2 linked regions of the Homo sapiens genome follow. The protein of the gene in region 1 purifies or fractionates together with the protein of each later gene. This does not show direct contact. Each region holds a gene or a part of one and is shown on either strand. Other genes may lie near its edges. The genes, in order: ANKRD18A and TTC33.

Region 1 (3,826 bases):
AATGTAATTCTTACAACTAAAAAATGTTGAGTCAAATCACAATAGAATATGATCAGGGAAACAGAACTTTTAAAACTTTGAGAGATTTTATCTGTCCAAATAGATGTCGAGGTAAAGGTCTTACTATAGGGTGGTGTCTGGGTTAGATATCAGAGTATAAATGCAATTTCCTTTTTCCAAGATTTTAATTTAGTCAAATTTTTTAACAACTTTATGCTTTGAGTTTGTTGTAATTCAGAGAAAGGCTTTTCCAATTCTGATATTCTTAAAAATTCTCTAGAGTGTGTGTGTGTGTATTTTATGGATTCATTGACTTCAAATACATTTTTGAACTTTTTGAAATGTATGTTCTCTAAGGTTCAAGGTTTTGCTTCAACTTTTTCTCCAGTTGGATATCCACTTACAGCAACTTTTAATTGCATGAATGTATAGATTGCTCTTTCACTTCAGAAATAACCATCATAGATTATTTTATTGAGTGCTAACTAAAAATTTGTTTTGTTTTATTTAGGATTCTCAAAGTTACGGAAAAAAGAAGGATGCGATGTATGGAAATTTTATGTTGAAGAAAGACATTGCCATGCTCAAAGAGGAATTATATGCAATAAAAAATGACAGTCTCAGAAAGGAAAAGAAATATATTCAGGAAATTAAAAGCATTACAGAAATAAATGCTAACTTTGAAAAGAGTGTAAGACTCAATGAAAAAATGATAACAAAAACAGTGGCCCGGTATTCGCAACAGCTTAATGATCTGAAAGCTGAGAATGCAAGGCTGAATTCAGAATTGGAGAAGGAAAAACACAACAAAGAAAGACTAGAAGCTGAAGTTGAATCCCTCCATTCTAGCCTGGCCACTGCTATAAATGAGTACAATGAAATTGTGGAAAGAAAAGACCTAGAACTAGTTTTATGGAGAGCAGATGATGTTTCTAGACATGAAAAAATGGGTTCTAATATTTCTCAACTAACAGATAAGAATGAGTTGCTTACTGAACAGGTCCATAAAGCTCGGGTGAAGTTCAATACCTTAAAAGGTAAGCTCCGTGAGACAAGAGATGCTCTCAGGGAAAAGACATTGGCTTTAGGAAGTGTACAGCTGGACCTAAGGCAAGCACAGCATCGAATAAAGGAAATGAAGCAGATGCATCCAAATGGAGAAGCTAAAGAAAGTCAATCCATTGGAAAGCAGAACTCTTTAGAGGAGAGAATACGTCAACAAGAACTTGAAAATCTCTTGCTTGAACGACAACTAGAGGATGCTCGTAAGGAAGGCGATAATAAAGAGATAGTCATTAATATCCACAGAGACTGTCTTGAGAATGGAAAGGAAGATCTTCTAGAAGAAAGAAATAAGGAATTAATGAAAGAATATAATTATTTAAAAGAAAAACTGCTTCAGTGTGAAAAAGAAAAAGCAGAAAGAGAAGTAAGTATGAAGAAAACTATAAACTTCTGGAAAGAAAATTTAAATATTTCATTCTGGCTATATGTTGAACCTAGTTCAATATACAAATAAATAGATGAAAATGTGTTTACCATTCTGTATAATTCCATTTACATGAATCATCCAGGAAATACATCTATAGGGACAGAAAGATGATTAATGTTTGTGTAGGCCTGGGGCTGGAAGCGGGTCGTGACTGCTAATGGGCATTAGGGATTGTCCTGGAGTGATGAAAATGTTCTAAAGTTGGATTGTAGAGATGGTTGCACGACACAGTAAATTTACTAAAAATCTTTGAACTGTTTGTTAAAAAAGATAAATTCTATAAATCATATTTCAACAAAGCTGTTTGAATAAAAATCATATTTCAACAAAGCTGTTTTAGTAAACCAAAAAAGTGTTTACTATATCAGCTTGGAAACATGCTTTGTTTCCAGGAGATAAAAGGTAGAGCTGACAAGATGCTTTCCTTTGAGTAAAGACATTATGTCACCTATGAAATGTTAGTAGATGCAGAGCAATGCTGATAAGGTGTGTAGTCTTAGACTACTGAAATAAGAAATGTAACGTCTTCATGTTGCCGCATTTTAAGAGCATAATGAAGCAGGTAAGTGGAAATGCTTGTACCTGAAATGTGTATTTTGAAAATCAGATTCAATTAAGTGAGCTGCTTTGACACTTAATTCTAGATTTTCCAGATGAACTGAAGTGTGTTGCTGTGTCTTGTGATGCTTTTCCTTCAGTGGCTCTCTCTTATATGTATTTTAGTTGGTGTAACTTTGTTTTGATTCATGCCAATGTGACTTAAGTCTGAAAATATGTCAGTCTCACATTATGTATTTTTCTGACCACTTAGTATTTTAAAGACTTCTACTTGTTATAAAATCACAATTTGGAATAAATGTGGTAAATTTTAGCAAAAAAATATTTGATGTAATGTTTCCACTGGCAGGTATTTATAATTTACTGTGAATATTTTTATGAGTAATTAGCTCATAATTTACATTTTAAGTCTCAATGACTATCATTTGGATATAATTCTTTCCAGTACAAAGATACTTTTAGCTGTCTGTGATTTATGAGTTTGACATTGAATCCCCATTTTCAGACTAATGAGGGGTGGCAGAGTTCACAGAGAGTGGGATTGAAGTTTGTACGGGACAGAGTTGTAGGAGCTGAGGTCAGGGAGGGAGGTAGAGGCCATGTTACCTAGGGCCTTGAAGGCCGTTGGAATTTTATTCTGAGGTAGGAATCCGTTGGAAGGATTTCAACAGGCGACTGAATATGTGAGGAACTCAGGTTGAGTTGAGGGTCTAAGGTGAGTGAATAGCGGGCTGGATCAATCTGTCATGTAAGAGAATACCAATTTGGCAGGAATATAACACCTTCTATGTCCCTCACTGAATTCAGTAATAAAGAAGAAAGTGTACATATGAGGAAAAGAAAGTGAATCTGTGTGTGTGGTAATAATTTTCAAAGTATGTATGCTAGACTTAAATATTAACATAATTTAATAATAAGCCACTTTATAAAATTGGTAACAAAAATATTTTGTCAGGTGATTGTGAGAGAATTTCAAGAAGAACTGGTCGATCACCTTAAAACATTTTCAATATCAGAGTCTCCACTGGAAGGTACATCACATTGTCATATTAATTTGAATGAGACATGGACTTCAAAGAAGAAATTATTTCAAGTAGAAATTCAAGTATGTATGGAATTTAACATGTAGACAGTTAATCTGTAGCTGGTTGAATAATATAAAGTGTCTTAGGATACTAATTTCAGTGGACAGCTTGATTTTATATTTTATTATAATTGATCATTACCATTTTATTATCTTTATAACGTACTTCTTCAACTCTGGCTCTTGTTCTGCCATTTTGAAATAATAGTTGCATATGTTTTCTCTTATAATATCTACACTTGGGAAAGTTGAGAATAATACATCATTCCTCACAGAAAATTGACTTTTTTCCCGTTAAACAGTATTTTTAGATAATTTCCTTAATGCCTTGGTGAGGCAAGCCAGATTAAGTCAGAAGAGAATGTTTAATGGAATATTCCAGCAAGTTGTCTTATTTCTTCACTTTTGTGAATGGACACAGCAGCTGTGCGTATTCATTTCATGGATTCTAGGTTAACTTGTACAGAAAGGCCATCATACTGTTCTTTGAAATGCACATGTTTTAGGTTAATTTACAAACTACTTGAAAAGTTAGGCATTGCCTTCATCTTCCTTTCATTTAAAATATACTGTAATGGCGTAGAAATACTCAGATCTAATAGAGTATGTACATCCAAAATGGAGAGCTCAGAAAATTATCTGGATCCTACCATGGGATTTTAAAAACAGTTTCACTGAGAGATAATTCACAT
Region 2 (3,826 bases), on another chromosome or scaffold:
GGGCTCAAGCGATCCTCCCACCTTGGCCTCCCAAAGTGCTGGGATTACTAGTATAAGCCACTGCACCCAGCCAGTTGTACTATTCTTTAATACAGATTTGAAATTTTTTCAAAATAAAAAAGGCCTTTTCCACCATAGATTAGAGATACCATTCTATATTTTCTTCTATTAATTGCATAGTTTTACCTTTCACAAATTTTTAATCCCTCCAGGGTCCATCTTTGTGCATGGTATTAGATACAGACACAGTTTTATTTTCCTCTAGGTAGTAATCCAGTTTTCTCAACAGAATCTACTAAAAAATTTGTCTTTTCCCCACTGACTAATGAAAAATGATTTTTGGTCCTTCTTAAAAATCTAAGCAGAAAAAGGAGAAAAGGAATAAAAAAGTAAGAAAAAGAGGAAAGGAAAAAAGAAAAAAGAAATGGGTGCATATAGGAACAACTTAGCTAAAGAAGGGCTAAAAATAAATGAAGCTATTATCAACTTCCTGTACAGCAAGTCATATTTACTTAAGTATATAAGAAGTAAATGGCAAAGAATAACTAAATACCTATTTTTTTTTATGTATGTGCCCTCAAAGCTATTCAGGAAATGCCTAATTTACCTGATACATAATGTTATAAGCAGAAAGTTTCCAGTGATAAGACCACCTTTTACTGACCAATCACTTGAATTACATTTTACTTAGCATTTACTCTTCTTTAGGCACAACAAAAATGATGGCAAAGCAGGGACATAATTAGCATCCTGAAAACTATTTTACAAACTTTCATTGCATCCTGAAAACTATTTTACAAACTTTCATTTTTCAGGTGACTTTGAAACACCTTATTTCTTTGATTAATTTAGCACCTAGAATAGATTTTTAAACATGAATTTATCAAATTCATAACTCTTCATCCCATTACGGACAGTGAGCTAGAAAATGTAAGCTCTTCTCCATAAAAAAAAAACTTTAAATACATACCTTTTATTTTCAGCCAAACTGGCTCCTTCATCCTTCAGCTGTTTACTTTTCTCAGCACAGCCTTCAAGAAGAATTTCTTTCCTACGTTTAATGGCATGAAGCCAGTTCCCTTCATCGTTGTCAACTACATCCTTCTCATCAGCAGCTTCAGCTTCAAACTGCTGGGAAGTGACCTTTGAGACCTTCTCACCAATTTTCCTCTTCCACCCAAAGGAAGCCATTCTGGAAAATTACAAAGAAACAGCTTTAAAATTCTAACTTGATCTTTTTTTTTTTTTGAGATGGAGTCTCACTCTCGTTGCCCAGGCTGGAGTACGATGGCACGACCTCGGCTCACCGTAACCTCCGCCTCCCGGGTTAAGTGATTCTCCTGCCTCAGCCTCCCGAATAGCTGGGATTACACTCATGCACCACCCACACCGGCTAATTTTTGTATTTTTACTAGAGACGGGGTTTCTCCATGTTGGTCAGGCTGGTCTCAAACTCCCGACCTCAGGTGATCTGCCCATCTCGGTCTCCCAAAGTGCTGGGATTACAAGCATGAGCCACCACGCCCGGCCCAAAACTTGGTCTTTTATGGAAGTATTCCAACCCATAGGTAAAGAGGAAATAACAGGATTAGACTATCACCATTTTTCAACCCTAATTAGTGGCTGTAGGCAATAATCATCAATGGCCACTAACATCACTAAGAAAGACAACTGGACATCACACACCTCCTGATGGAAGTAGCATGTCACTCATGAAGTAAGTACTCCTACAAAAATTAACCCTGAGTCAGATCAGGCCTCTACCTATAAGAAATACAGGATAAAGTGAAGCATGCTCAATAACACATCAGAGATGCAGATAGCAAAAAACAGAAACTAAAGGAAAATAAAGCTGGTTTCTTCAAGAAATAAACTGCCAGGAAAGAAAGAAGAGAAAGAACAAGGTAACCCCTAAATTAAGAGAGACTTAAGAGACATACTAACCAACATAACATGTGGATCTTGTTTCACTCCTGATTCAAAAAAGCCAATGAGAAGAAAACTTTTTTTTTTCTGAGACAAAGTTTTGCTCTTGTTGCCCAAGCTGTAGTGCAACGGCCCGATCTCGGATCACTGCAACCTCTGCCTCCCAGGTTCAAGCAATTCTCCTGCCTCAGCCTCCCGAGTAGCTGGGATTATAGGCAGGCACCACCACGCCTGGGTAATTTTTTGTATTTTTAGTAGAAACGGGATTTCACCATGTTAGCCAGGCTGGTCTCAAACTCCTGACCTTAGGAGATCCGCCCACCTCGGCCTCCCAAAGTTCTGAGATAACAGGCGTGAGCCATTGCACCCAGCCAGAAGGAAACATTTATGAAATAGGAGGAATGGGAACACCGATTTGATATTTGATGATATTAAGAAATCACTGTTTTGTTTTGTTTTTTTGAGATGGAGTTTTGCTCGTTTCCCCAGCTGGAGTGCAATGGCACGACCTCGGCTCATTGCAACCTCTGCCTCCCAGGTTCAAACAATTCTCCTGCCTCAGCCTCCCGAGCAGCTGGGATTACAGGCATGCGTCACAATGCCCTTCTAATTTTATATTTTTAGTAGAGATGGAGTTTCACTATGTTGGTGAGGGTGGTCTTGAACTCCTGACCTCAGGTGATCCACCCACCTCACCCTCCCAAATTGCTGGGATTACAGGCGTGAGCCACCGCACCTGGCAAATTATGGCTATTTTTTCTTTGGTGTGATAATGGTATTGTAATTATGCTTACAAAAGGAACCCCTAGGTTTTAGAAATATAAACTGAAATATTTCATATAAAATTATAAGACATCTAGGAATTGTTTTAAAGCAATCAGTGGAGGTTGGGAGTGCAATGCAAGAGAAAATATACATGAAATTAGATTGCTTTTAATTGATAACTAATGAAGTTGAATGATGAGTACATAGTGTTCATTGTACTTTTTCCTTTCATATGTGTTAAAATTTTCCATAATAAAAAGGTTTTAAAAGATTCAAACTTGGTAAACGACTTAACTCACAAAATTATTGGGTAAATTTTAAAATAACAGATGCTGGCCGGGCACGGTGGCTCACGTCTGTAATCCTAGCACTTTGGGAGGCCAAGGCCAGTGGATCATTTGAGGTCAGGAGTTTAAGACCAGCCTGGCCAAACCCCATCTCTACTAAAAATACAAAAATTAGCCAGGCGTGGTGGTACATGCCTGTAATCCCAGCTACTCAGGAGACTGAGGCAAGAGAATTGCTTGAACCCGGGAGGCGGAGGTTGCAGTGAGCCTGGGCAACAGAGCAAAACTCCATCTCAAAAAATAAATAAATAACAAATGCTGAACTTTTCAGTAAATCTGCAATGATATACAAATGTAAGAAATAAAGAGAGGATAAATGATAAAACAAAGTTAACAGAAATCCTGAAATAATTCAACAAATATTTATTTAGAGAAGAGATTAACTGAGGGATCCAAAAATTTACTAGTTGTATAGATGGTCTTCAAGATACTAAGAAACACTGGGAACTGTATATAAATTGTACAAAATTCTTTATATCTGTGTACATTTTGGAGAATAGTGTTTAAGCTTTCATTCCATTCTTAAAGGAGTCTATAACCACAAGGAGATTTTGATCAAATGATCAACTAGAGAAACAGAGAAAAAAAGCAATGAACCAAAAAACATAAAGAAAAGAAAAGCAACGAATCAGAGGGCTTTATGAAACTACCAAAGAATGGGCACTGTGGGAGTATGGGAGGGAGAGAAATGAAATACTGCATAAGTTCGAGCAGGTTTCAAGGTCTTCATTACTGATGCACATGGCTGAAGTGATGTATAAGTACAGGCCTATCTCAGAGTTGTTGCA

The links.
Region 2: the proteins of ANKRD18A (region 1) and TTC33 purify together in Homo sapiens (affinity purification with mass spectrometry; one large-scale study listed by BioGRID and IntAct). This does not show direct contact.

What each region holds. Positions count from the first base shown.
Region 1 is NC_000009.12:38,593,089-38,596,914, reverse strand, and holds part of ANKRD18A (ankyrin repeat domain-containing protein 18A), read left to right. Parts: intron 1-511; coding exon 512-1,429; intron 1,430-3,005; coding exon 3,006-3,155; intron 3,156-3,826.
Region 2 is NC_000005.10:40,745,828-40,749,653, forward strand, and holds part of TTC33 (tetratricopeptide repeat protein 33), read right to left. Parts: intron 1,193-3,826; 5' UTR 1,192-1,192; coding exon 971-1,191; exon of another isoform or gene 1-970.